Regions from separate parts of the Homo sapiens genome. Here regions 1, 2 and 4 are each linked to region 3. The links come from fine-mapping of genetic effects on gene expression. A gene starts in region 3. Each other region holds a variant in brackets. All regions are shown on one strand. Distances are from middle to middle.

Region 1 (5,000 bases), 130 kb after region 3:
TGCCTCAGCCTCCCAAGTAGCTGGGATTACAGGTGCCCACCACCACGCCTGGCTAATTTTTTAATTTTTAGTAGAGACAGGGTTTCACCATGTTGGCCAGGCTGGTCTTGAATCCTGACCTCAGATGATCTGCCCACTTCGGTCTCCCAAACTGCTGCAATTACAGGTATGAGCCACTGCACCTAGCCACATATTTTCACCTGGCATATAAGTAAAACTGGCTAATTAGCAACTCCCCTAGATTTTTTGCTTTTCTATTGTATTGCAAGAACAGAAACATACTTTTCCCCTTTGTTGAAAGATCTCCAGTGGCTTCCCATCTTTTATAAGGGCCTGCTCCTCACTACCATTCTGCCCTCAACCCCTGCTGCTCCTTCTCACTCCATTCACACCAACCACACTGGTCTCCTTACTGTTCCCTCAACACACAAAGCATGCTGCTGTCTCAGGGCCTTTGCACTTGCTATCCTATTTTCATGGAATGTTCTTCCCCTAACTAAATGCATCGCATATCTCCCTCCTCTTCATTGGGGTCTCTGCTTAAAAGCTAACTACTCAGATAAGCTTTCCCTGACCACCCCCCTAAAAGAACACCCCATCCCACATTGACTCTATGTTTCTCTAGTTTGCTCTGTCTTCACAGCCACTTCTTCCCATCTGGCGTAGTAGACACTTATTTGTCTATTTATTGCTAATACCTTCCCCCACTAGAAGGTCAATTCCATGGGGTCAGGGAATTTGTTTTGCTCACTGCTGTGTCCCCAGTGCCTGGCTCATAGTGGATATTGAATAAATATCTGTTGAATAAAATAGTATTATGGGTGTCCTCAGAAATAAAAGGTAGGCTTTTGGGTGTAAGGATTTTCTCGGGCTTCTGTGCAAAACTGAGTGTGATCACCAGCCCTGGGTTCAAAAGTCTGCAACGTTGCCACTCACCCTACTTATAACCTCAGGGATGTCCCTTCCCTGCCCTGGCCTCACAGTCCACATTAGCAGCAGGTGACCTCTAAGAACCTTTCCAATTCTGAAATTATGTGATCCTCAGGGAAGGAGATGGGGCACATAGACATCCAGCCACACGGCAGGGTGCGCTCTGGACGTGGGTGCTGTGTCCTGGCAATGGTGGAAGAAAGGTGGCCTCACACTGACCTGTCAGGAGACCAGACGTGAGAGCTATCACGATGGCCAAGCTGAGTTCCCCAATGCTGAGGAGGACCTGGAAGCCAATCCTAGAAATGACAAAGCAGAGGTGGTCACTTGGGCATCAGGCAGCAGAGGTCATCAGGGACAAAAAGGACTGTCGGTGTCAGTAGTGCCATTGCCAGGAAGGGCCATGAGGAAAACAAGGGTCCTCTCCCTGGCTGGTACATTCCCCTGGCATTTTCCCAAAAAGCCACGCAGACATGTGGGAGGGAGGGAGGCGACGGAGATTCCAAGATTGTGGCTTATTTTAGTTCCCAGCACCTCATGGATAATGAACCAGACCAGGAGTCAGAAAACCCAAGCTCAAGTCCCAGCTCTGTCACTTACTAGCTGCAAGACCCTGGGCAAGTCCTTTAACCTCTCAGAGCCTCCAGTTTTCTCTCTCTCTCTTTTTTTTTTTTTTTTTTCTGTTTTTGTTTGTGAGATGGAGTCTCACTCTGTCGTCCAGACTGGAGTGCAGTGGTCGGCTCACTGCAACCTCTGTCCCCCAGGTTCAAGCGATTCTTGTGCCTCAAGTAGCTGGGACTACAGGCATGCGCCACCATACCTGGATAATTTTTGTATTATTAATAGAGACGGGGTTTCACCATGTTGACCAGGCTGAACTCGAACTCCTGACCTCAAGTGATCTGCCCGCCTTGGCCTCCCAAATTGCTGGGATTACAGACATGAGCCACCACATCTGGCCAGCCCCAGTTTTCTCGTTAGGCAATTAAAGATGAAGGTTCTATTTCTCTTGGGGCAAGGTGGGTGGGGTAGAGCTTGGCTTTCAGACCCATCTCCCCTGCCCATCCCTACCCCTTGAACATACTTCCAGGATCTCTCTCCTTCAAGGCAACCCCAGGGGTTCAATTCAAACATTAAGCTATTACGGGGGCCCCTGGATGCTGAATGTGATTGTCCCAGGGTTCAGCATGCACCTGGGCACTGCCAGCCCGTTCACTGCAGCCCCACGGATAGTTGTACACAACAAGCCAGTTTTTTAAGCCTTTCCTATTTCTTGTCTCAACAGGTGGGCAGCTCATGTTCTCATTTTTAAGACAAAGGAAAGCTCCAAGCCTGCAGCCTCATGGGGTGGACCCCACCTTGTATGTCATTTGGTTATCTTCCCTGTCTTTACTGATTGTTCATTATAAAGTGGGAGAAATAATCACAGTCCCTACCTCATAAGATCATAGGAGAGTGGAGAGAATTAAAAAGAATTACCTGCAGACTAGAAAAATAAATTAAGGCCGGGTGTGGTGGCTCACACCTGTAATCCC[C/T]GCACTTTGGGAGGCCGAGGCGGGTGGATCATGAGGTCAGGAGATGGAGACCATCCTGGCTAACACAGTGAAACCCCTTCTCTACTAAAAATACAAAACATTAGCCGGGAGTGGTGGCAGGTGCCTGCAGTCCCAGCTACTCAGGAGGCTGAGGCAGGAGAACGGTGTGAACCCAGGAGGTGGAGTTTGCAGTGAGCTGAGATCACGCCACTGCACTCCAGCCTGGGCAACAGAGCAAGACTCCATCTCAAAAAAAAAAGAGAAAAGAAAAATAAATTAAAAAGATAAAAAGAGTTGCCACCCTGCTGCTCTTGTAGGGAGTGCAGATGTCAACAACTACCTGCCCAACCATTCAGGCAGCCATCCCCCCTTCCGTGTGGCAAGCTCCAGGCCCTCATCTTTGCCATCTTTGTATATATTCAATAGTTTGCTTCCTCCCCAGCTCCAAACACAGTTCAGGTTATCAAAACCTCAGGGAAATGTTTGTTGAATGACTGAAAAATGGAGTCAATTACTCAATTCATTGATCTAAAATTAAGTGATTTTTAGAAAAAAATTCAGGGGGACATATGCATGACCTTGCAAATTTCTTTTTTTTTTAGATGGAGTCTTGCTGTGTCACCAGGCTGGAGTGCAGTGGCGTGATCTCAGCCTCCCGAGTAGCTGAGACTACAGGCAAGAGCCACAACGCCCAGCTAATTTTTTGTATTTTTAGTAAGGACAGGGTTTCACCATGTTGGCCAGGATGATCTCGATCTCTTGACCTTGTGATCTGCCAGCCTCAGCCTCCCAAAGTGCTGGGATTACAGGTGTGAGCCACCGAGCTGGCTGCAAAAATTCTTAAACAGGACATAAAAGAACTAAGCATAAAGGGAACAATGATAAATTGGGCTATATTAAAATTAAGAACCTCCTTGTTCAAAAGACACCATTAAGAAAGTAAAAGGTGGGCTGGGCATGGTGGCTCACACCTGTAATCCTGGCACTTTGGGAGGCCAAGGTGGGCCAAAGTTGAGGCTAGGATTCAAGATCAGCCTGGCCAACATGGCAAAACCCTGTCTCTACCAAAAATTATTTTGTCTATACAAAAATTCGGTGGGCATGGTGGCATGCACCTGTAATCTAAGCTACTCAGGAGGCTGAAGTATGAGAATTGCTTGAACCTGGGAGGCAGAGGTTGTAGTGAGCTGAGATAGCGCCACTGCATTCCAGCCTGGGTGACAGAAGGAGACTCTGTTTCAAAAAGAAAGAAGGAAAAAGGTAAGCCACATAGTGGGATTCATATCCAGGATATGTAAGGAATTCCTAAAATCAATAAGAAAAAGACAGAACACCACAATAGAAAATGGGCAAACTAACTTGAATAGACATTTCACAAGAAAAGATATTCAACTGTCCAAAAAGCATATTAAAAGTGCTCCATTTAGTTAGTTATTGGAGATATCAAAATGTAAAAAATAGGTTTCACTGCTAAATGACTAATCAAAAAGAAGGAAAACACCAAGTGTTAACAAAATGTGGAGTAAAAGGAGCTTCTATACACTACTGGTGATTAGATTGGCGCAAACTACTAGAGAAAACTGTTTAGCAGTAGCCACTAAGGCTGACTGTGTGAATACTGTATAACTCAACAATTTCACTTCTAGGCATATAATCAACAGAAGTGCATTCGTGTGCTCCAAAAACAAAAGTGCTAGAATGTTCAGAGGAGCAATACTAGAATATTCATAATAGCTCCAAACTGGAAACTACCCAAATCCTCCTCAATAATGGATAAATAAATTCTGCTGCATTCACACAATGGAACACTTGTTCCAACTATCTTTTCTTAGATTCTCGATTTGTCTATCCGGCATTCATTTATGACAGGGCCACACTAATGGCCAAAGTTGTTTATCTCGTTTTCTTGCAAGTCAGCTTTCTCAGGCATGGGAAACTCATATTATAAACCCCTCAGCTACAAATTCCAACATATGTGTTTTCACTTCCTGCCCATTAGTGGATGCCCTCACCCAGTTACTCTCCCACCACTCTTTTTCATAAAGGCATAGGCCCAGTTCCCCCTCTCTTTCTGCTGCCTGGTCCCTGGATGACACAGTTTTGTGTGGCCCTGCAAGACGTGTTCTGCCTCTTTTTTACAGGGGAACTGTGAACAACAAAACTTTCCTTCCAATAATACTGGAAGAAAATGCCACTCAGTCACCTTTATAAATTAAGACCCAAGCATGACAGAACACTATATCCCAGTGGAAAAAAAGTACAGCAATGCTTAACAACCTGGATGAATCTCACAACTACAATGTTGAGTAAAAGAAGCATACAAAAGCACAGACTTACTGTATGATTCCATGTATATTATCTCAGTTCACTTTCTGTTGCTATAACAGAATACCACAGAATGGGTAATTTATAAAATAATTATATATAGCTCATGGTTCTGGAGGCTGGGAAGTCTAAGAGCATGCTGCTGGCATCTGTTGAGGACCTTCTTGCTGTGCCATAACATGGCAGAGGGTATCACATGGCAAGAGGGCA
Region 2 (7,855 bases), 47 kb before region 3:
TGCAGTGAGCCGAGATCACATCACTGCACTCAAGCCTGGGCAACAGAGCGAGACTCCATCTCAAAAAAAAAAAAAAGAGCTAGACACACACATTAAGTGTGACACCAGGCAGGCCGTCTCACCGAAAGGACTGGCAGGTAGTGTCTGACGAGCTGGCACAATGATGATAATAACATAAATAAAAAGTTCACATTTATCAACCATTTGCTACGGGCCAGGCACTTACATGGGTTATCGCATGCAATCCTACAACAACCCTACAACCACGTAGGCACTTCTGTAAAAACCTGCCTCTTACAGATGAGAGAATGAGGCCCAGCGTGGTTAAGTGATGTGTCCAAGAGCACACAGCAGTGAGTGACAGAGCAGGAAGCTGAATGGGCAGCCTGGCTCCAGAGGATGAATGAATACCAGCAGGGACGGGGATTTGGAGGGCTGGTGGTGGGGACGAGCCAGGGCATGGAGCAGGTGGAATCTGGGTGGAGAGGCAGTGTCCCTGCCCCGGCCCTGAGACCTGCCATTTAGGAACACTAAGGATCCATGTCTCTGCTAATACAACCAAGCCAGAGGTTGTTCTAAGTGTGCAAAGCCACCCCGGGCCAGGGTGGGTTGGAGGGGTGGGAGGTGGAGGCAGCCTGGGAATGGAATAGCTGGGAAGAGCTGTGGGGCAGTGAGGACTCGCTCCACCCCACTGGCCAGCCTGGGAGTCAGGATCCCGGCTCAGCCCCCTGCCTGAGTGTTGAGGGCAGGAAAACAGTGCATAGAGCGCTCCTAGCCCCACGGCTGGGTAAACAGCAGCGGCCACCAGTCCCATTAAGGGACCACACGCCCTCTCTCATGCTGACTAAGCCTTGCTGTCTTTGAGCCACCCGTGTGGCCATCATTTGCTGTGTTGGGCAACTCCGTATCTTTTAATGCCTGCGCTGGTAACCTGTGGCTCCCCCAAAACTATGGCTGGGCCCATAAATCCTCACCCGGCACCTCCAAGATGTCAGCCAGCCCCTGGGACACCCCGCTGAATTTACGAGCTCTAAAGTCCAGATTTGCTCTGATGAGGGAAGCAAAGGATCATGTTGCCCATCTGGGACCTGGTGCTCAGAAGCCATAAACCACGCTGGTGACAGCGCCATGACAGGTCGAGGGCCCTCGGCGGGTCATTTGCACGCTGGTTAATGGCCATGATGATGAGGCAGTAGCTGCTTGAGAACCCCTTGTGGGCCACTAATGAAGCTTTAAATCTGTCACGGGAGGTTAAGGGAGGAGGTGCCTATTTTATCTTCTTTTTGGGGTGTTTAATCCCAGCTTTTGTCTTTTTTCTCTCTTACTCCTTTTTGTTTGTTCTACCTTGGCAGGCGCAATCTCACCACGGCCCTCTGAACACACACGTCGAATTCTAACTTGAAGGCACTGGGGAGTGACAGCCACTACATTTCCCAATCTTTTTTTATTGTCTTTGGAACAATAGTCTGCTGTGTTCCAAAGCACACAGGCTCATCTCAGATGGGGCAAAACAGAAGGAATGAGGAAGTCTGCGGGGAGCAGCAGCTGAGCGGGCAGAGGAGAGAAAGCTGCCTGGGGGCAGTGCCCACCTGGAAACAACGATGGGGAAGTCAGGGGCACTAACGTCCCCACCGGTCCAGCCAGCCTTAGCATGGCCTCAGCCACCACTCCCTTGACTCCTCTCTCCCTGGACCCAAACCTCAAGCCCACAGGACTAAATAGCCATTGGAGAAAAGAGCCGGGACTAACTCTCTTGCCTTGTCCTGGGGCAAAAACTATCAAGAGTCTTAACCAAGGAAATTACTAACAACTAGTACTCTTATTTGATCTAAGACTCTGTGGGCGTGGGTGTGGATGTGGGTCTGTGAGAGAGGAAGAGAGAAACAGACAGAGACACAGATAGACAAAAAGAGAGAGGCAGAATTGAGGGCAAAAGAGGGGTATAAGAGGAACTATTTGTTGGCACAGGAAAGAAAGATCTAGCATCTCTTGGCAGGCTGTGAATACCCTTTAATTAAGTAATAAATTTGGAACCAGGGAAATAAGTATCAGTAGGGAAACACTCGGTTTAATTACCCATTCATCTGCTTGGCTCTGCCAGGGCGCTGCTGGGCCACTGTTGCCAAGACACACCAGCTCGTGGGCACTCGGGACTGAGGCTGCCCAAGCACACATTCCAGTTTGGTTCCAGCTCCTTCCGTGTTGACAGAGAGAAAGAGAAACAGAGGTTGAGCGAGACAGAGGCAGAGAGACAGCGACGGCACAGAGGAGCAGCTGTAATTCCATCAAAGGGCTCTGGGGACCCTGTAAGCCACCAGACACAACCAGAGTGGTTTGTCACCAGAGCCCCAGTGGAATTGACTCAGAAGGCATTGTTGCAGATTTTTCCAACGTGAAGCCAAAATACAGAGGCCGAGTGTGTTCTCGGAGCCGTGCGTCACTGCGAAGGAGCAAACCCGGCAGGGTTGATCCCGTGTTCACCTCCTATAGCCATTGCAGTGAGCAGTGTAGCCAGCCACACACTGTGGGCGCCTCCACCAGGAACTCAGAGCCCCGCAGAGGGCGAGGCAGTGTCCGGGGAGACAGCCTAGAAACCAGAAGCAAAAAGCCTTCAGGATTCTATTTCCACGTCCAGGGTAGAGCTGAAAGACCTGAGGCTCTGGGCCTAATTACAGAGCTTGGGGTCCTGGGTCAGTGCCACAGAAGCCACTCACAAGGCCCTCCCAAGGTGTCGTGCAGAAGGAGAAGGTGGGAGGAGCCGAGAGGAAGGGAAGACCCCCCTGAGCAACGTGAGACCAAGGCTCGTGAGACCTACACTGCCTTGTAGGTCTCTGGGGTCTGTGGCTTTGAGTTCGGCAGCATTTCTAGAATCCAAGAGAAGAGAAAAGTGAGGAGGCTTTGGGAGACAACTCTAAGGTGCCCAGGGGTGACGGAGGAGGTACTTCCTGACCTCCACCAGGGATCCCAAGCCTCAGTCCCTTGTTTCCAGGGCTTTCTCCCCACGTGGAGGATGGGGGGAGGTGTGCTTAATGGGATGGACCAAACCTTTCTTGCTTTAGCCTCTGATTCCTAAAATCTGCTCCTATAAACAGCTCTCGCCCAGCAGGCCCCTTGTGATGTGTCAAGAGTAAACGAATCTGAAACAGCAAAGGAGATCGCCTTCCAAATAGTCTTGACTTTAAGAATTAAGGCAAAGAAAGCATTTGCCGAAGGACGTTTCCAATTTGGCCAAATCCAGGGCTTTGGAAAAATATCTTAAGACATTTCACCAAACCCAGAGCAAAGCCGGCAGGGCCCCACTCTGGTCATTATGAGTTATTTGCAGCTTGTTTCTTGCTGAAATCATTTTCTTCTCTCTGCAGGCTGAGCTCTTCTGAGCCAGCTTGATTTCTGCAGCTGTTATGCACAACTCTTCGCCTTTACAACCTGACAGGCATTTGGAGACAGTGCTGGCAGGCAGCAGGAATGTGAGGGCCCCCGCTCCAGCCCGAGCCCTCAAGGACCCTGGCCCAGTCTCTTTGTGCTACAGAGGCATCCACCATAGTGCCCTGGGATGGCGTGCTCACAGGACGACACGAGTCGACATTCGCCCAAGCCAGGCATGGCCAGGCTGGCAAAGGCCTGCCTATCTGGGCCAGGTCTGTAGGGGAGAAGCATCTACGGGAGAAGGCCAAGTACCACGTGGTATCCAAGCTCTGACAGGCAGGGAGTCAGGACAGATGGCAGGGGCACTGGGAGAGGGTATGCGGGCACCTGGAGCTTCCGAGAAGAGCCTTAATGAACAGGCAGGGCTGAGAGGAAGTGTGGCTTGGTGGATGAGCAATGCGGCTTTGGCAGCCGATAGGGCTGGATTCGAAGCCCCACCTTGCCACTCACAGCAGTGTGGTCTGGAACCGGTAGCGTAAACCTCTGAGCCTTTGCTCCCTTGTCTGGAGGGCAAGGACCACCACAGTGCCCAGCCATAGGGCTCTCACGCTCCGAAAATCAGCTCCTGTGTGTGAAGTTTTCTCTACGTGAGTGGAGTGGCTCTTTAGGCTCCTGCTTGGTGTGTGTTTGTTTGTCTGTTTGCTTTTTGAGACAGGGTCTCTCTCTATCATCCAGGCCAAGGCTGGAGTGCAGTGACGTGATCATGGCTCACTGCAGCCTCAACCTCCCAGGCTCAAGTGTTCCTCCCACCTCAGCCTCCCAAGTAGCTAGAACTACAGGCAGGCGCCACCACACCTGGCTAATTTTTTTTACTTTTTATAGAGATGAGGTCTCACTATGTTGCCCAGGCTGGTCTCAAAATCCCAGCCTCAAGCCATCCTCCTGCCTTATCCTCCCAAAGCACGAGGATTACAGGTATGAGCCACCATATCTGACCCCTCTGCATCTTTTCTGCATTTCTTGATCCTCCCACCTCATCATATTTAGTCCCTCCTCTGTTACAGTTGTTTCTG[G/T]ACTTGCCACTCCCCTGAGCCTCATTCCATCCCACACGGGCCTGCCCATCCAGTAGACCCCACTGCAGCTCCTCTGACAGTCATGGCCATCAGCTTCCATGTTCACCCTTCACCCACAGCGCTGGAGGTCGCCTGTCGGGAACAGGCTCTCTGGAGCCCTCCACAAGATCCGGTCAACAGGTAAACAAATCCCCGGGAATGTGTCCTCTGAAACTGCCTCCTCTCCCTCAGTAATGTGATCCTAAAGGCCTGTCCCACACCTTTTTCTCCAACAGCGTGGCCAATTGAGAAATAGGGAGGACTTGAGGCCAAGGAAGGATCTAATTACCAACAGCTTATGCTCATAAGCCACCTACCCATTTCACCTTCCGCACCTCCTGCAAAAAATGAGAGTGGGGGCTGTTGAGAACCAGGGGATGTCTTTCTATATGGTTTGGATGTTTGTTTGTTCCCCCCAAATCTCACACTGAAATATGATTCCTAATGTCGGGGGTGGGGCCTGGTGGGAGATGACTGGACCACCAGGGCAGATCCTTCATGAATGGGTTAACGACATCCCCTTGGTGATAAGTGAGTTCTTGCTCCGTGAGTTCACATGAGTTCCGGTTCTTTAAAAGTCTGGAACCGCCCCCCAACCCCACTCTTTTGCTCCCACTCTCGTGCCTGCTCCCCCTTTACCTTCCACCATGATTGTAAGCTTCCTGAGGTCCTCACCAGAAGCCGAGCAGATGTTGGCACCATGCTTCTCATACAGCCTGCAGAACCGTGAGCCAATTAAACCTCTTTTTATAAATGACCCAGCCTCAGGTATTCATTTACAGCAATGCAAAAACAGCTGGCCGGATGCGGTGGATCACACCTGTAATCCTGGCACTTTGGAGGGCCAAGGCAGACAGATTGCCTGAGCCACAGGAGTTCGAGACCAGCTTGGGTAACATGGCAAAACCCCGTCTCTACTAAAAATACAAAAAAAAAAAATTAGCTGGGCATGGTGGCGGGCACCTGTAATCTCAGTTACTCAGGAGGCTGAGGCAGGAGAATCACTTGAACCTGGGAGGCAGAGGTTGCAGTGAGCTAAGATCGCACCACGACACTCCAGCCCGAGCGACAGATCAAGAGTCTGTCTCAAAAAAAAAAAAAAAAAAAACAGCCTAGCACACCTTTTCTCAAGAGCACCCACAAACACTTTTGTTATTACTTCTGCCTTGTGCACCTGTCAACACTTCCCAAGACAACAAACATAGAACGCTGGGGAATAAAACACCAACATGCCCCAGCACATTTATTTCCAGATGCCCTAGTGTGACTCTGCTTACAAAAGGGACCTTTTTCCAGCAGTCAAAGTCAGTCTCTGGGTGGGATCATGAGCCCACTCCTAGGCAGGGTAATGTGTTTACAGGCCAACACTGAGAGTTAAAAACTAGCCCTGGATCTAACAAATTGTCCTGACCATGCATTTGTTTTTTGCCTCGTTTCCTTCCCATGGCCCGACGATGGCAAGCTGCAGGTACATCTGTTCTGAAGAGCAGCCTCCCGCCCTTGGTCACTCTGTCCCGTGTCTCTCAGATGTTTAGTCCCGCGGACTGGGACCTGCTACACTTGGGCCAAGGCTTCTGGCTCCTCTCACTAAAGGCCTCAATTTAACTTAACGGACTAAATAAGGAACCATTTCTATATGATTAATTAATTAGGGTTCTGCTAGGAAGGATAATAATATAATAATGTAAGTAAGACTGCAAGGCCTAGCTACCAGCCTATAAAAAGAACACCAAGCACAGCACAATTAGGAAGACATTCAAGACGGAGGAAGCTCGGAGCCGTGGACTCAGCTCTGACTAATGCCAAGATTGGTTCATGGGGTTCAAATTCAGGGTCCAGCTGGCCTGCCTTAGAGAGTTACCTGACTTTTTTTTTTTTTTTGACAGAATTTTGCTCTTACTGCCCAGGCTGGAGTGTAATGGCATGATCTCGGCTCACTGCAACCTCCGCCTCCCAGGTTCAAGTGATTCTCCTGCCTCAGCCTCCCAAGTAGCTGGGATTACAGACATGAGCCACCACACCCAGCTAATTTTGTATTCTTAATAGAGATGGGTTTCCTCCATGTTGGTCAAGCTGGTCTTGAACTCCCGACCTCAGGCAATCCACCTGCCTCAGCCTCCCAAAGTGCTGGGATTACAGGTGTGAGCCACCGCGCCCAGCTGAGAATTACGTGACTTCTCTGAGCTGTTGCCTTCTTCTGAAAGATAGAAGAATTGATGTGTATTTGTCAGAGTATTGTGGAAATTCAATAAATGCAATATATGAAAATTACCCAGCACAAAATAGGCTCAAAACACCTGGAAAATATTGCTTAAGAAATTCCAGACCGGGCGCAGTAGCTCACACCTGTAATCCCAGCACTTTGGGAGGCTAAGGCACGCAGATCATCTGATGTCAGAAGTTCGAGACCAGCCTTACTAACAAGGCAAAACCCTGTCTCTACTAAAAATACAGAAATGGTGATGCATGCCTGTAGTCCTAGCTACTGAGGAGACTGAGGCAGGAGAATCACTTGAAGCCAGGAGGCAGAGGTTGCAGTGAGCCGAGATCACATCACTGCACTCCAGCCTGGGCAACAGAGTGAGACTCTGTCTTAAAAAAAAAAAAAAGAAAGGAAAGAAAGAAAAAGAAAAAAAAAAGAAAGAAATTCCAGTGCAGTAGCTGGTACTAAAGATGGAAATAAATGCAAAGAGTTTTGTGTAATGTGGTCCATTCTGTTTTATTGGCAAATGTCTTCTTTTTCTCTGCACTTTAATATGCACATTCACAAGTCCTTTGAAAGAAAGTGCATGAAAATTTAAAACAGATGTAAATTAAAATCCCAACAGGAATCATCTTCATTGATTACAGATGGATAAATAGTTGTTATTTACAGATGAGTCAAGGTGATCCTAATTGGTAGGTTTTCTGGTTGGTATTTGTATTTGAGGGCATTAGCATAGCAATTGAAAGCCTCTCGATGTCCCCTCTCCACGCCTCACCCAAGCCTCTTATCTCCTCCATGCTGCTCCTACTCTCTCCCCACCCCCCAAAAACATTCTTGGCCACTTCAGTACTCAAGGTCTCCCACCTTGGGTCCCTCAACTCTCCTGGAGCTAATGACCCAATTCCTCAAGGCCTTGCTAAATAACCTCTGCATCTATCTAACCCTTTTTCTGTAAAGAGCCAGATAGTAAATATTTTAGGCCATCTGTCAACTCTGCCACTGTAAGCTGAAAGTAGCCACAGACAATATGCAAATAAGTGAGGCTGTATTCCAATAAAATGTTATTTACAGGCCGGGCTTGGTGGCTCACGCCTGTAATCCCAGCACTTTGGGAGGCCGAGGCAGGCAGATCACGAGGTCAAAAGATCGAAACCATCCTGACCAACATGGT
Region 3 (7,855 bases):
CGAGTTCCATCTTCTGTTACCTTTTCCGACAGCTAGACAGGTTAAGAAAAAGTGTAATTTTAAAACACATACCCTTGGTTTCTAAATCCTATATTAAAAAATAGCCTAATTGTAAACAAAATTTAGCTGTAGACACAAAAATCAACTTGGATCTAACAGCCTAAGTAACAGAACTATTGAGTTTTCCCCTTAACAAAACTGATTTAATATTAGGCTTAAGACACTCTTCCCATAATTATTTTACTTCCCTGCTGGCAAATTTAAACTAATTTTTTAATCAGTTTTCTCAGGTTGAATCAAGTTCACTTTTGAAATGTAAAGCCACATCAGAAAATACGTTTTAAGAAACTAAGGCATTTGCCAGTTAGGCACCTAATCGTCTGAACAAAGACCTTGTCTACTAATACTGAGCAAACCCACATCTGGGCCCAATTACACAGATTCATTTAGATACAGCATTTTTTTTTTTTAAGCCCCCGAGACGGGAGTCTTGCTCTGTCACCCAGGCTGGAGTGAAAAGTACAGTGCAATTTGCTAATGCACATCCTGCACATTTCTGGAGAATTATAATAAACTTATCTGCAAGTGAAGCAGGCCTCCTCTTCTGTAATCTCTCAAAACATCTGGAATATATTGCATATATTATGAAAGGGACATCTTTTTCACAGATGCCCCACCGTTACAACGTGTACCTTTGCTTAGTTTAAAAATTGACTTTAATACTTTATGCAAATAGTGCCTGTCCCAAATTCTAGCATGCACATGGATCTACCAACAAAAAAACTAAGTTTTCAGTGTGTGAACATAAACTTCAAATTAAACCTCTGATGCTTTAGCCCATGTATCAATTACCAACAGATTTTCTTCATCAATGTCTGCAGACCACATTCATGATTTCTATAAGACAGAAATAGAGCAGATAAACTATACTGTATATGCTGAGTACAGAATTTGTGGGAACATAATGCTGCAAATGAAAGCTACAAACACTCTGTAAATAGCTTAGAAAAACTAGTAATAGAAATCACCAAAGTACCAGCTAATAACGGTGTTATAAGAGTACACTGTTAACTGAAAATGAAAAAAATAAATGTATTTTTTGAGACAGGGTCTCGCTCTGCTGCCCAGGCTAGAGTGCAATGGTGCCATCTTGGCTCACTGCAACCTTAGCATCCTAGGCTCAAAGATCCTCCTGCCTCAGCCTCCCAAACAGCTGGGACTACAGGCATGCACCACCATGCCTGGCTAATTTTTGTATTTTTTGTAAACACGCGGTTTTGCCACATTGCCCAGGCTAGTCTTGAACTCCTGGACTCAAGCCATCTGCCTCATTACAGGCATGAGGCACCATGCACGGCCAAATAAAGCTCATTAATCTCCCATTTTCATGGGTTTGACATTGCCTATCTTCAGATTTGCTACTTTGAATTTAGCACATTATATACATCTCTAGACTTCCCAAAAAGTATAGTCTAAGATATAAGTGGCTAATCAGATTTGACAGTTGGCTTTCTGAAAGTTTTGTTCCGACAAACCTAGAATACTTACTTCAGGCTTTGCACCATTACTTGATACACCTATTCCACGGCTTGTTTCTTTGGCTGAAGGAACAGTTCTGAGACTAGCTGGCAAGTCAATGTTGGTTGTTCCTAGAGCTTTCGCTGCATTGGTTTTTGCTATTTCTAACAGCTCCATTCGATCTAAAAAAAAAAGAGAGAGATTTTAAAATACTCATTAATCTGGTAGTTATTTCCCAAGAGAACTCAGAATTACACAATAAATATGTTATTTTGTGGTATTAAATATATTAAGTCACTTGTTTTATAATAGGTAAACTAAGGTTGCCCTTGAACACTAGTAGCTGCGCTGGTCCACTTTATACTTGTTTTTTCTCCCCCTTACTAAATGCAGATAGAAAGTACCACAGTGTTTGAGAGACTGTAAACCCCAAGTGTGCGCGAGGGTTCCATATGCATCCTGGCACCAATCCCCCGAGTGAACAGAGGGACAACTGTGTAACTTTATTCACTGAAAATTCTATTCTCCAGCTCATTTCTTGCTGAAAAGAATAAAATTCTTAAATTATCTCAACAATTAGTTTTGTTTTCTTGACTAAAGGCCTGAGCGTCCTATTATTTTGTCTTTTTGTTGTACTTAATTTTCTCTAGCTAATAGTGATATTATTTTGCTTTCTCTTCAAAGATGTATTTCTGAAAACCAGGTTTTTCTGCTGTAGATTCTTTATATAATTATCACAACCACTGAACCAATACTGATACACTACTAAAGTGTATTTCTACCACCACCCCCGGCTAATTTTTGTACTTTTACTAGATAGTGAGCTATGTTGGCCAGGCTGGTATGGAACGCCTGGCCTCAAGTGACCCACCCGCCTCCGCCTCCGCCTCCCCAAGTGCTGGGATTACAGAGGTGAGCCGCCGCGCCCGGCCTCCTAGGTCACTTAGGATACTCGACAATCCAATTTTATTCAGTAATAATGTCAACTAAAAGAAGGCGTGTTTTGATATTGTTCTTCCCAATCACGTTAACTTAGAACCTTTAACTTAATCATAACATTTAAAAGGCTCCACCCACTAAGAACAGTCAGCCAATAGGAAAAAAAGTTCCCTACATCCTGAGCCATTTAACATCCAGTTGACCTTTAACCCTAAAGAGAATGCTGTCCACTTAAATACAGGTAATGTCCTCCCTCTTTCCTCCAAAAAGATTTCGGGCACTAAAGGAACTAATATTGAAACTACACAGCAACGTTGGTTCCCTAGCCTACTCATATACTGCCACCATACATTACCACAAATGGAAAGGTAAATGACCCACCCACCTTTTTCACTTAAGCGAAAGGGGGTTCTGCTCCGCGACCTCGTCCTGGATCTGTCCCTCCATCTGCTGTGCTCCTCCGGGTACACTGTGCGACCAAAGCCGTAGTAGCGCTGTCCCCGCGCGATCGCGTACGCCCTTCCGCAGTACGACCTTCCCCGAGAGCGCGACCTGCTACGGGACCGGGACCGGTACCGCGAAGGAGACCGGTAGTATCTCCTGGTGAACCCGTAGCGCCTCTCTCGGTAACGGCGGCTGCGGGATCGCGACCGGCTCCGCGAGTATGACCGCGAGTAGCGCCTGTACTTCCGCTGGTGGCGCCTTCGGGAACGGGACCTGGACTTGCTCCTCCGACTCCTGGACGAAAACCGGCTCGAGACGCGGGAATGGGACCGAGAGCTTCTGGAAAAAGAGCGGCTCCTAGACCGCGACGACAGCCGGCTGGACCCGCCCGACCGCGAGGTCGAGGGCGAATCCTTCTCCTGCGGCGAGCCCGGCCACATGTCGTTCACGTAGTTGGACATCTTCACCTGCGGCTTTAGCCTGCGCTTTCTCCGGAAAGGATCCCGCAAGCCTCAACTCAGGACTTCCTAAAAAACCAAGAGAGAAAAAACAAGTCGAGTCGCGGAAGCCGGCGCCTGGCCACCCGGAAGCCACAGTCGGGGAACCTCCGGGAGGCGGAGCCACGGCGCGGGCGGCGACCGCCGCGACAGGAACCGAGCCCTAGAAACCCCGCTCGGCGCCCTGAGGCCGCGGCCTTGAAGCGAAACGCTGCGTTCCCCAAACGCGGGGCCCGGCACGTTTCCCGTCCCTCACTCCTGAGAGACCACTGCGGTGGTCCTGAGAGACCCCGTCAGCAGAAAACTTACCGCACGCCGTCGACGCCTCCCTCACGACTGAGAGAAAGGCTCAACAGACGCCTTCCTTTCGGAACGTAAGACGAAGTGGGGCTTTTAGTCCCTGCTTTCGAACGGCGAATTCCACAACCTCCACCTCCTACGTCCGGATGCGCACTGAGGGACTACGTTAGCAGACGCGTCAAAAGTACCAGAAGCTGGCCCCCGGCGCATGCGCAGAGATGTTCCGTGGTGGGCGCGGCTCTTCTCTTGCCCAACCACCGCCCTGCCTCCTCCCTCCCCAAGCCGCGCCCTGTGCCTCGAGCGCTTGCCTCCAGGGTGCGCATGCGCGATGGGGCTCCAGGGGGAGGTGTTTGATACATCAGGGTGTCCCGTTGCCCTTGGCTTCCCCCCTGATCTGAGATAATTGCGGGACCGACCCAGTCACCAGAAAACTTCGAAGATGGAACGGCCCCGCGTGGGGCTACACCAGGCTCTGGCCTCACTGCACGGGCGGGGCTGGACGTCAGTGCCGGGCGGGGAGTAGGGCCGGGAGAGGAGCGGCTGCAGGCTGGAGAGGGCTCGCAGCCGGGCTCGGAGCTGGGGCCGTCTGACGGGCTGGTGCCCACAGGGTCGTTGCCGCCACCCACCGGCAAGTCGCAGACCCGGCCTGAGCCTCCCTGGACCCTTCCTGGCCTCTTCCTCCTGTCCTAGGTACCGCGGCGCCAGGAGAAGGCGACCGCGTCCACACCCCGCCATGACAGAGAGGGGACCTCACCCTCCCCCGGAACACCCCAAGACCCCTGGAAATGCAGTATTAACGTAGAAAAGATGTTTTACTTCCATGTTTTGGCTAGGAAGGTAATAAGGTCGAGACAAAATAAAAAGACTCAAAACTGACCTTTAATCTGGGGATAATAATGAAGTCTGCGATATCTCTTCCAAAAACTGTGTTTGGTGTGAGTGTAAACAAAGGTGACTATTTTACTTCTAGGGATCTACAAATGGGATGCATTTCAAACACTTCTTGTAATAAAGCATAACAATTGCCTTGAAAATTGTGGGTTAATTGCCTTTTTTTTTTTTTTTTTTTTTGAGACAGGGTCTCACTCGCCCAGGCTGGAGTGTGGTGGGGCCATCACGGCTCACTGCAGCCCAGGCTCCCGAAGAGCTGGAACTACAGGCATGCACCACCATGCTAATTTTTGCACTTTTTTACCCACGGGATCTAACTGTGTTGCCCAGGCTGGTCTCCAACTCCTGGGCTCAAGCGATTCTTCCGCCTCAGCCTCCTGAAGTTTTGGGATTACAGGCGTGAGCCACTTTGCCCAGCCTATACACTTCTTTACAAGTACATTTTGACAAAAGCCACTTTCTTTAGAGGGAGACACAAACTCACTCATCTCTTGTTCATCTTCACCCCACATCTCCGCAGTTCATCCACATCTCCTGAGGATGCATCATGATGGAAGTAGTTCTTAAACAGTTTCTTCTCTAAATCTCAAGACAGTGAAGATACAATGCCCATCCATCAGAAACCTTTGCCGAAAGTTCTCATAAAGCTGTGTGAGTGGACAGAAAAATAACACGAGGCCAGTCGCGGTGGCTCACGCTTGTAATTCCAGCACTTTGGGAGGCCGAAGCGGGAAGATCACCTAAGATCAGGAGTTCGAGATCAGCCTGGCCAACATGGCAAAACCCCATCTCTACTAAAAATGCAAAAATTAGCTTGACATGGTGGCGGGCGCCTGTAATCCCAGCTACTCGGGAGGCTGAGGCAGGAGAATTGCTTGAACCTGAGAGGCGGAGGTTGCAGTGAGCTGAGATTGCAACACTGCAACCCAACCTGGGCAACAGGAGCAAAACTCCGTCTGGAAACAAATAATAATAATAACAACACGAGTTTCACATTTGACAAGTATAAAAATGATGTGTTGGGGAACTAAAGTATACTTACGATACAGTTTTGAGCTCTTGGTTATGAATAGGAAAGGATGGAACAAGTCTCCGTAGACAGTTCAAAGTATCAGTCAATGTGTGCCTAAAAAATGGTGACCAGAAAAATCCTAATTTTTTTTTTTTAAGACAGTCTCGCTTTGGCGCCCAGGCTGGAATGCAGTGGTGTGATCTTGGGCTCACTGCAACCTCTGCGTACTGGGTTCACACAATTCTTGTGCCTCAGTCTCCCGAGCATCTGGGTTTACAGACGTGCACCATCATGCCCAGCTAATTTTTTTTGTATTTTTAGTAGAGATGGGTTTTCACCATGTTGGCCAGGCTGGTCTTGAACTCCTGACCTCAAGTGATCTGCCTGCCTCGGCCTCCCAAAGTGCTGGGATTACAGGCGTGAGCCACTGTGCCCAGCAAATCCTGGATATTAACAGGATTTTGGAAACAGTGGGAAACATTACTTTGCCCTCGTGCAGAATGCTGGTGTATTTGTCTCAAAAACATACGCGGTCTACCTGAGTTAAAGTCTGCAAAGTCACCTTCCTTTATTTCTCTAAACAGTATATATTCTCTGAGCATCTATCCACTCACCTAATGAAAAAAATTCAACTTTAGTTATTAGAACATCTAGCACCGAATTTGTAGGCTAATGTAGGCAGAAATAACATCTTTACAATAGCAAATCTTCCCATCTAAGAATGTGACAATGTTGTAACCAAGCGAGATAGAGAAACGCCACACTTGGAGACAAATTGTGGAGTCCTTTATTAGCCGGCAACCGGGAGACAGCTAGCGCTCAAAATTCTCTCGGCCCTGAAGAAGGGGCTAGATTTTCTTTTATACTAAGGTCTAAATAGGGGAGGGGGGTTTAACTGAAGCAGTTTTACAGAAGCAGAATAGGCAAAAAGTTAAAAAAGTTAATTGGTTATAGAAGCAGTTACAAAAAATAAACAGTTCCAGGTACAGGGGCTTAAACTATCACTAAGAGATAAATGCGGGGGCTTTAGGTACCTTCCACCGAGCACATTCCCAGGAGCTGCTGGTACAGCTTGCCTCAATATCTTATCAGCAGGTGAATTCCTGGATGTGCTTGGAGTCAGCTTGCACTAGTTACTCCCTTAGGGGGATAAAGAGGGCTGCAAGCAAAGAAACTAAAATGGAGTCTGTCCGGCTCTGTCTGCTAGGAGAGAGTCACTCAGGTTTAAACAAGGTAGGGTATCACAACAAGTTTTAAATGTGCCATTTAAGTTGGTTTTTTGTTTATGTCCTTCATTATGGTTGGCAAACCAATCGCCTCCCAAACATGTCCATTCCCTAATTTCCTGGAACCTGTGAATATGTTACCTTAAGGTGACAAAAGGAATTATGCAGATGTAATTAAGGTTAAGGATCTGGAGATGAGATTATTCTGAAGTATCTGGGTAGGCCCAATCTAATCTCAGGAGAGAGTCAAAGCATGAGAAGAATTCCATGCCCTGTTGCTGCTTCTGAAATGTAGGGGCGGGCCAGGCGCGGTGGCTCACGCCTGTAATCCCAGCACTTTGGGAGGCCAAGGCAGGCGGATCACCAGGTCAGGCATTTGAGACCAGCCTGGTCAACTTGGTGAAACCCCATCTCTACTAAAAACACAAAAATTAGCCGGGCGAGGTGGCGTCCGCCTGTAATCCCAGCTACTCAGGAGGCTGAGGCAAGAGAATCACTTGAATCCAGGAGGCGGAGGTTGCAGTGAGCTGAGATCACACCACTGCACTTCAGCCTGGGCAACACAGCGAGACTCCAACTCAAAGAAAAAAATAATTAAAAAAAAAAAAGAAAGAAAGAAATGTAGGGGCTTATGTGCAAGGGCAGGGAAAGAACTCTAGGGGCTAATGGTGGCTTCCAGCTGACAGCCAGGAAACAGACCTCAATCCCACATCATAGAACTGAATTCGGCCAACACATGGATGAGCTAGTGTTGGGGATCTTCCCCTAGAGCCTCCAAAAAGAAACAAAATGTGACTGACACCTTGACTTTAATCTGGTGAGACTCCTCACCTATAGAACTATGAGATATTAAATTTAGGTTGTTTTAAGCCACTAACATTATGGTTATTTATTACCACAGCAATAGGAAAATAAAACATTCAGTATAATTTATAGTTTTCCTTTTTTTTTTCTTTTTTGAGACGGAGTTTCACTCTGTTGCCCAGGCTGCAGTGCAATGGCTTGATCTTGGCTTACTGCAACCTCTG
Region 4 (7,855 bases), 290 kb after region 3:
GCTCGGCATAGCCACACCCGGAGGGGTGCGGGAGCCAGGTGGCTCAAATGAGCATGTTGTTCAATATTTAGCAGTTTTGCAAGATGGTTATTAAACTTCTGGTAACTTGAAATTGGCCGTGGTGGGTGTATTTGCATCATGGAAATTGGCAAACAGTACAAATCAGAAATTGGGTTAATCAGCACGCCACCGACAAGGTAGCAAGCTGCCAGCACCATGGGGCAGGGAGCACCCAGAGACCCACACTCAACGCATGGCTCTGTGCGAGCCCTGGGCTGGGCACAGGAAACATCTAGGCAAATCAGACACTCTCAAGTACGCCTCCTCTCAAGTAGCAACCAGCCTAGTAGGGAGACAGAAAAGCAATGTGGAAAGTTATGAACCAAAGGGATACCATTGACAGCAGCTGTCGTATCTGAGGTCTCTACCGTGTGCCATGGTGCTGGAAACTTTTCACGTATCACCTCTAGACTCCACTGCACAGACGGGAAAATGAGGCTCGGCAGTATTAAGTCACCTGCCCAGGATTGTGCAGCTGGCAAAGTCAGGTCTGAAGCCCACATTGTTCTGACTGCTGAGCCTGTAGCCTTAACCATAGCGATGTCCTGTCCCCACACATGCTCCATGTGAAGTATGGAGAAGGGAGCAACCCCACCTGGGGTGAGTGCTGGAGTGGCATTGGGAAAGGCTTCCCAGGATTGGTGACATTTAGTCTGGGCTTTGAAGGATGAATAGGAGTTTGCCAGTTGGAGGGCAAACTGGAGAAAGGCATTCCAGGTAGAAGGAACAGCAAAGGCATGGAGAAGTAGGAGGACACAGGAAGTTTAGGGGAAGGGGTTACAGGGTAGTATCACAAGGCTATGTGGCTGGGGAGGACGAGGGATGGGAAGGTGGGTGGGGACTTCAGTGAGAAGGGCCTCGAAAGCCAGGCTAAGGGGTTTGGTCTTTATCTCACAGGCTTTGGAGAAGTTGAAGGTTCCTGGAAATCAAACCCTGGAACTATATAGATATTATGGCAAGATTGCCACCAATGTCTGTTTTATGAAGTCCACTAAGTAATGCTTCTCGAAGCATCAGTGGAGCAGGACCATTTTTAAAAGAATTTCTCTTCTGTCACAGACCAATGCTTTTGTAAAATACAAGGAAAACGAATTACTAGAAAAATACAATAAAATGACGAAAAACACAAGCCTAATTTTAAAAATGAGATTCAACAGACATAAAATTACTCTATCAAATTGCTCTAAAAGTTCTCAACCCTTAATATCTACACTCTCTTTGATAGCATTGGGCTTGTCCAGAGGTCTCTTTATAGGCCCAGATTCAGAACACATGCAGGTTGTCCTAGTAAGAGCTAAGTGCTCTCAGGCGAGTCCCATTTTAGAGCTGAGGAACCTGCTGCATGGAGACGGTAGGTAGGTGGGCTGCCCACGATCACACAGCTGCTGAGTGGGGCTTGGGACTCAAACCTGAGGCTGTCTGCCTTGTACTCAACCAGTCTGGAAGGTGCAGCAGACCCCTTAGCAGAGTCCTCTTTGGCCTGGCCCCTTCACTTTGTCCCTCCTCCTACCTCCTTTCAGCACAAGGTCAAGATCCCTGTAGACAGAAAAAGGGAAATAGAGCCAACTTAAGAAGGGAACTTCCTTGCCCAAAGTGCCACTGCAAGAGGGCGGCAGAGGTGGCCAGCCCCCAGGTCTCCTGACACCAGCCTGTCCTCAGTCACACCACTCTGCCTGCCTCCATGTCTATGCAGTGACCTCCAGGCCAGACAGTGCCAAGGAGGACGAGGGAAGCGGGGGCAGGAGGCAGGGGACTCATCAATTGCTGGCAATTACACGGTGCTTTGTCATTCTTAATTAGCTCAGTGGCTCCACAGCCTAGAGATCTCCCTGTGGATGCTAGGCTGGGGGAGGAGACAGCTGCTGGTCCCACCACGGAGGGCTATTTGGAGGGGTAGGTACCGAGGAGCTCCCCTCAGCAGCACCTCCCCAGCCCCATTAGGGGCTGCTGTTTCTCATCCTTCCTCACCCACTTGCCAGACACTATAAGAACCAGAGACAGAAATTAAGCCATTGGATGTGTATGGGGCATCTCCTTTGTGCCAGGCACTGGTCAGCAGCTCTAGGAGCCCCTGGAATGAATGCTGATTTCCAGCCCCCATGCTTGAGGCACGCCCAGCTGCTGGAAGAGGCAAACAGGCTCACCATAATCATGATAATGATAACCAGAGTTACCCTTTAAAAAAAAAGTTTATCTTCATTTTTATTTCTTTGAGACAGTGTCTCTGTCGCCCAGGCTGGAGTTCAGTGGCGCAGTCTCAGCTCACTGCAACCTCTGCCTCCTGGGCTCAAGCGATCCTCCCACCTCAGCCTCCTGAGAAGCTGGGACCACAGATGTGTGCCACCATACCCGGCTAATTTTTTAAATTTTGTTTTATAGAGACAAGGTTTTGCTTTGTTGCCCAGATTGGTCTTGAACTCCTGAGCTCAAGCGATGATCCACCCACCTCAGCCTCCCAAAGTGCTGGGATTACAGGCATGAGCCACCGTGCCCAACCCTGTTACCATTTACTGAGCGCTCGCCACACGCCTGGCACTAGACTAAGCATTTTCCATATATTATCCCACAGAAGGCTTACAAAGCCCTCTAAGGTAGGTATTATGCCCACTATACAGATGAGGAAACTGAGGCTCAGAGATAGCTAAGGTTACATATACATACATGGAGGATTTGTTTTAGAGCCAAGGTATGTGGAGCTCCAAGGTCTAACAGTTGTTTAGGAGTGTGTGTGTGTTGGGGAGAGAATACTGGTGTGTGGGTGGCTGTGATCATGGGTGTTAGGGAGGAGGCCAAGTAGCTGTTCAGGGCAAAGGTAGAGAGGCCAGGAGAGTTGAAGCAGTCTGGCTGGATGTTCCTGGAAGAAGCAGCTGCATGGGAAGGGTCTGAGGGAGGACGGGTTCAGAGGCAACTGGTTGGGGTGGTCAGGTCAGCGGGCACAGCAGGCAGGAAAGGCCCTGCATTTGGGGTAAAAGGTCAGAGCCCTGGGGCTTGTGACTCACCGGTAAGTAACCCAGGCTCCCTCTGACTCCCTAGGAGAGTACTGTCTCCGACCTGGGCCCCAGCTAGGATGGGGCAACCCTACCCTGTCCATTGAAGGTGTGATGTTAGCCTGCCTGCCCCTCAGACTGGGCTATGCTGGTTCCAACCCGGAGAGAGAGCTCCCTTCCCTGGGGACCAGCCAAGAATTATGATATTCATAGGTACTCCAGCCATGTCATCTTCATTGTTCACCCAGTTAGGAAAGCAATTTTAGTTTTATTAAAATATGCGGCTGGGCATGGTGGCTCATGCTTGTAATCCCAGCACTTTTGCAAGGCCGAGGCAGGCGGATCACGAGGTCAGGAGTTCGAGACCAGCCTGATCAACATGGTCAAACCCCTGTCTCTACTGAAAATACAAAAATTAGCTGGACGTGGTGGTGGGTGCCTGTAATCCTAGCTACTCAGGAGGCTGAGGCAGGAGAATCACTTGAACCTGGGAGGCGGAGGTTGCAGTGAGCCGAGATGGCACCACTGCACTCCAGCCTGGGCAACAGAGCTAGACTCCAACTCAAAAAAAAAAAAAAGATGGAGCTAGACTCCATCTCAAAAAAAAAAAAGTGTATATATATATATATATATATATGCAACATATACATCACTTACTATATGCCAGGCAGAATTCTAAACATGTCACAAACATTAACTTTTGTTAATGTCCCAGCCTGTAGGTGGGACTACAGGCGCCTGCTACCACACCCAGCTAATTTTTGTATTTCAGTAGAGAAGGTGTTTCACTATGTTGGCCAGGCTGGTTTCAAACTCCTGGCCTCAGGTGATCCACCCACCTGGGCCTCCCAAAGTGTTGGGATTACAGGCGTGAGCCTCGGCACCCAGCCTACATTAACTTTTAATCCTCATGATGACTCCATGAGGTGTAATCCCCATTATTCTAGTCTATTCAGGCTGCTCTAATAAAAATACCAAAGGCCGGCTGCCTTATAAACAACAAAAATGTATTTCTCACAGTTGCAGATGCTGGGAAGTTCAAGTTCAAGGTGTTGGCATATTCGGTCTGGCGAGGGCCGGCTTCCTGGTTCATAGATGGCTGTCTTGTCACTGTAAGAGTGAACAGGGCCAGGAATCTCTCTGGGGTCTTCTTTATGCTCATCCCATTCATGAGGGCTCTGCTTTCATGAAAGGATTACCTCCCAATGGCCCCATCTGCTGATACCTTGAAGGTTAGGATTTTGACATACGAATTTTGATAGGACAGAAACATTCAGTCCATTGCACCAATTTTACATTTTAGAGGAAACTGAGGCCTGTGGAATTTAAATAATTTGCCTAAGGCCATGCAGTAAAGAAATAGGGAAGCCTGGATCCCGGGATGCAGCATCAGTGTGCTTCACTACTGCGCTCTGGTGTCTTCCACTAATAACTCCCATTTTACAGATGAAGAAACAGAGGAAGGGATTGGCTCAGGGAAGTAGGGAGGACAGACCACCTGAGGAAACCAGGGACTCTCATCCCAGCTTAGGCTTTTGTCTTGGTCCCACTGCAAGCCCAAATGATGGCTGGAGAGAGGCTGACAGCCCTGTCAACTCCTTGGCATCCACTATCTCGCTGGGGTCCTGTGGGTCCACTGAGGAAGAAATTAGTAAGATTGTAGCTGATGCCATTTGACTAAAGACAAAAGCCATTTATTCT[T/C]ATAGGTAGCTCCCCGACCCCGTTTATTGTTCTTTTTCTGATTACTAAAGGAACATGATCACTGCAGAAATGTTTACAAAGTTAGAGCAGATAAACAGAAAACCAAACAAAAGAGAAAAGAAAAATCCCCTTTCAAGCCCCTCTTGAATCTCAGGACTTATTTTTTTCTTTTCTTTTCTTTTCTTTTTTTGAGACGGAGATTCGCTCTTGTCGCCCAGGCTGGAGTGCAGTGGCGTGATCTCGGCTCACTGCAACCTCTGCCTCCTGGGTTCAAGCGATTCTCCTGCCTCAGCCTCCCGAGTAGCTGGGATCACAGGCATGCGCCACCACGCCCGGCTAATTTTGTATTTTTAGTGGAGACGGGGTTTCTCCACGTTGGTCAGGCTGGTCTCAAATTCCCGACCTCAGGTGATCCGCCTCAGTCTCCCAAAGTGCTGGGATTACAGGCACGAGCCACTGCACGCGGCCCTACTTCTTTGCCTCCTCCTCGTTGTTATAAGCATCCAAGGTGGGAGGCAGGAGACCTGGCATCTGTTCCTGGCTTGCTGTGTAACCTTGCGTAAGTCCCTGTCCCTCTCTGGGCCTTAGGCTCCTCATCTGTGAAATGAGGGTTTGGCCACAGTGACCTCAGAGGAGGCCACTCGCAGCTCTGACCTTCTGTTTCTGCTTCTGTTTCTGGGATTGGCAGAAGGGGCACTAGCAGGCTGCCCCTCTGCAGGGGACACATGGCTGACAGCTCGCAGCAAGCCATCTCCGGGAAACTGCAAAGGCTGGTAAACAGTTCTCGTTGCACACGCAGCGTTCCCAGGCCTTCCTGCTTATCAGGCCCATATGGTGCCCCCTGCCAGCCGGACACCACCAGCTGCCCTTGGCCAGTCTGCCCTGGGTGATCACTTTTCCTCCCTGCTTCAGAATGCTCTCTCTACTATTCCAGAATCTAGCTGGCTTGGGATAAGTGAGCTGGGGGCACTCAGCCCTGTGGACCCATCTACCTATTGCCACAGCCCTTTTGCAGAAGGCAGCCTGGTTTGGTGAAAAGCTGGAGAAAGGGAGAAGGGGAGGAAAGGAGGGAGGAAGGACAGGAACACTGACTGTGTTCCAACTCCATTTGGACCCCTTACTAGGCATTTGGGATTCAGAAATGAATCAGAAAAACTTCCTGCTTTTGGAGGGTACAAAGTCTAATGGAGATGAGAGGAGTATAAACAGGCAGCAGTAGTGCTTGCAATCCTGAAAGTTCAGGACTGTGGGCGCCCACAAAGAGAAACTTAATCCATGGGTGGTAGTCAGGGAAGCCTTCCTGGAGGAGGCAACTTTAAAGGTGGGTTCTCAAGAACAGGATTCAGCCATTCCAACTCCTGTTATTTAGTCCTTAAGGACAGCCCTGTGAAATAGATATAGTTGTCCCTTTTACAGATGAGGCTCAGAAGGGTGAGTTCACAACCACCAGAAGGACAGCTGGGTTCTAACCCCTGGCATTATACTCTACCCCATTGCCTATGGGCCTGAGTCTGATCCCAGTCTCTGACTCTCGGAGACTATCAGTGAATGCTTCCCTCCCTGACCTAGGGCTGTCATCTGTAAAGTGGGTCCACCTAAGCAGTGTTGCTGGGGAAGCCAAGGACAGACTGGCTAACAAAGCACTTGGTTTATAAACAGGGGAATGTCAGTGAGGCCGCCCTATCCAGCTGGGGACAGCACAGCACTATCTTTCTCCCGACACAGAGAGGACTGCTGGCTTCTGAGCCAGGAGTAATTACAGAGGTTGAAGTTGGCCTTGCCTGAGGCACCCCCTTCTAAAAGAAGCCAGGCTGTGGCTTGGATGTGTGTGTCCTCCCTCTGGCTCCTTTTGGCACAGTTTGAAAGGAAGGCATGGCATCCTAGAGAGTTAGAACAAATCCTTCCAATCCTGGAGTTAGAACATCTGTGCCTGAGCAATTCTGGGGTTCAGACTGCCCTCCGAATGCTCCTAGGAAGCAGCTTGGGGTCAGGGTCAAGGTCATGCAGATTCTTGACCCTGGCAGGTTGGAAGGATCACTAGAGATAGCATTGACTCTCATTCACAGATAAACAAGACTCAGAGAGGGGAAGTACTTGCCTGAGGTCACACAGCAAGTCAGTGTCAGGGGCACGTTCCAGATCATACCATCTGTGAGGCTACCTGGGAAGTTGCGGGGGCATGGGGTGGCCCAGCATGCTCAGGTGGTGCCAGGGAGCAGCCTGGGAGCTACGAGGATGAGTAAAGTGCCTGGCTGGACTTGCTAAAGGCAAATTTTTATATACCGACCCTGCGCCTAACAAGGGTCTATACTGCAAGCTTGTCCAACCTGTGGCCCACTGGCCATGTGAGGTCCAGGACGGCTTTGAATGGAGCCCAACACAAATTGGTAAAGGTTCTTAAAACATTATGAGATTTTTTTGGGCAGGGTGTGGTGGCTCACAGCCATCCCAGCACTTTGGGAGGCTGAGGCGGGCAGATCACTTGAGGTCAGGAGTTCGAGACCAGCCTGGCCAACATGGTAAAACTCCATCTCTATTAATAATACAAAAATTAGCCAGGCATGGTGGTGCATGCCTGTAATCCCAGCTACTCGGGAGGCTGAGGCATGAGAATAGCTTGAACCCGGGAGGTAGAGGTTGCAGTGACCCGAGATCGCACCACTGCACTCCAACCTGGGCAACAGAGTGAAACTCTGTCTCAGGGGAAAAAAAACAATACAGAAAAACAAAAAACATGAGTGTGTGTGTATATATATATATTTCAGCTCATCAGCTGTCGTTAGTGTTAGTGTATTTCATGTGTGGCCCAAGACACTTCTTCTTCCAATGTGGCCTAAGGAAGCCAAAAGTTTGGATATCCCTGGCTTACAGCCTCCACTATTTCCTAAGTCTCCCACTGCCCTGGACATCGCATTGCTTTTGTCCCTGAACAAGATCTTTCACCACTGGAGGAGCCCTCAGTCTCCCCATCTGTAAAATGGTCACTGGAAATCCTAGGCCGCTGCTCTCAGGCCCTCAGGCCCCTACGGGGTGGGGATTGGGGAAAAGGAGGAAAGCGGGGGCGTCTAGGGCTTGCGATTTGCTATCTTCTGGCGCCTTCGGGCGGC

The links.
Region 1: its variant is fine-mapped to the expression of RSRP1 in whole blood (INTERVAL, PIP above 0.99).
Region 2: its variant is fine-mapped to the expression of RSRP1 in whole blood (INTERVAL, PIP 0.98).
Region 4: its variant is fine-mapped to the expression of RSRP1 in whole blood (INTERVAL, PIP 0.93).

What each region holds. Positions count from the first base shown.
Region 1 is chr1:25,374,200-25,379,199 of GRCh38, forward strand. It overlaps RHCE (Rh blood group CcEe antigens), which reads right to left. Exons shown (of 10, transcript NM_020485.8): 8 at 1,150-1,229. Among named protein-coding and RNA genes, the nearest start is that of TMEM50A, 38 kb to the left of the region's middle. The variant C/T (reference allele first, on the strand shown) is at 2,466.
Region 2 is chr1:25,196,657-25,204,511 of GRCh38, forward strand. No RefSeq gene overlaps it. Among named protein-coding and RNA genes, the nearest start is that of SYF2, 32 kb to the right of the region's middle. RefSeq lists an enhancer at 2,394-2,893 and a silencer at 4,959-5,133. The variant G/T (reference allele first, on the strand shown) is at 4,440.
Region 3 is chr1:25,243,602-25,251,456 of GRCh38, forward strand. It overlaps RSRP1 (arginine and serine rich protein 1), which reads right to left and starts at 3,853. Exons shown (of 5, transcript NM_020317.5): 1 at 3,708-3,853; 2 at 2,843-3,428; 3 at 1,549-1,700; 4 at 1-32. The coding sequence starts at 3,362. RefSeq lists enhancers at 2,644-3,368, 3,369-4,093.
Region 4 is chr1:25,535,599-25,543,453 of GRCh38, forward strand. No RefSeq gene overlaps it. Among named protein-coding and RNA genes, the nearest start is that of LDLRAP1, 4.1 kb to the right of the region's middle. RefSeq lists an enhancer at 7,678-7,737 and a silencer at 7,838-7,855. The variant T/C (reference allele first, on the strand shown) is at 4,749.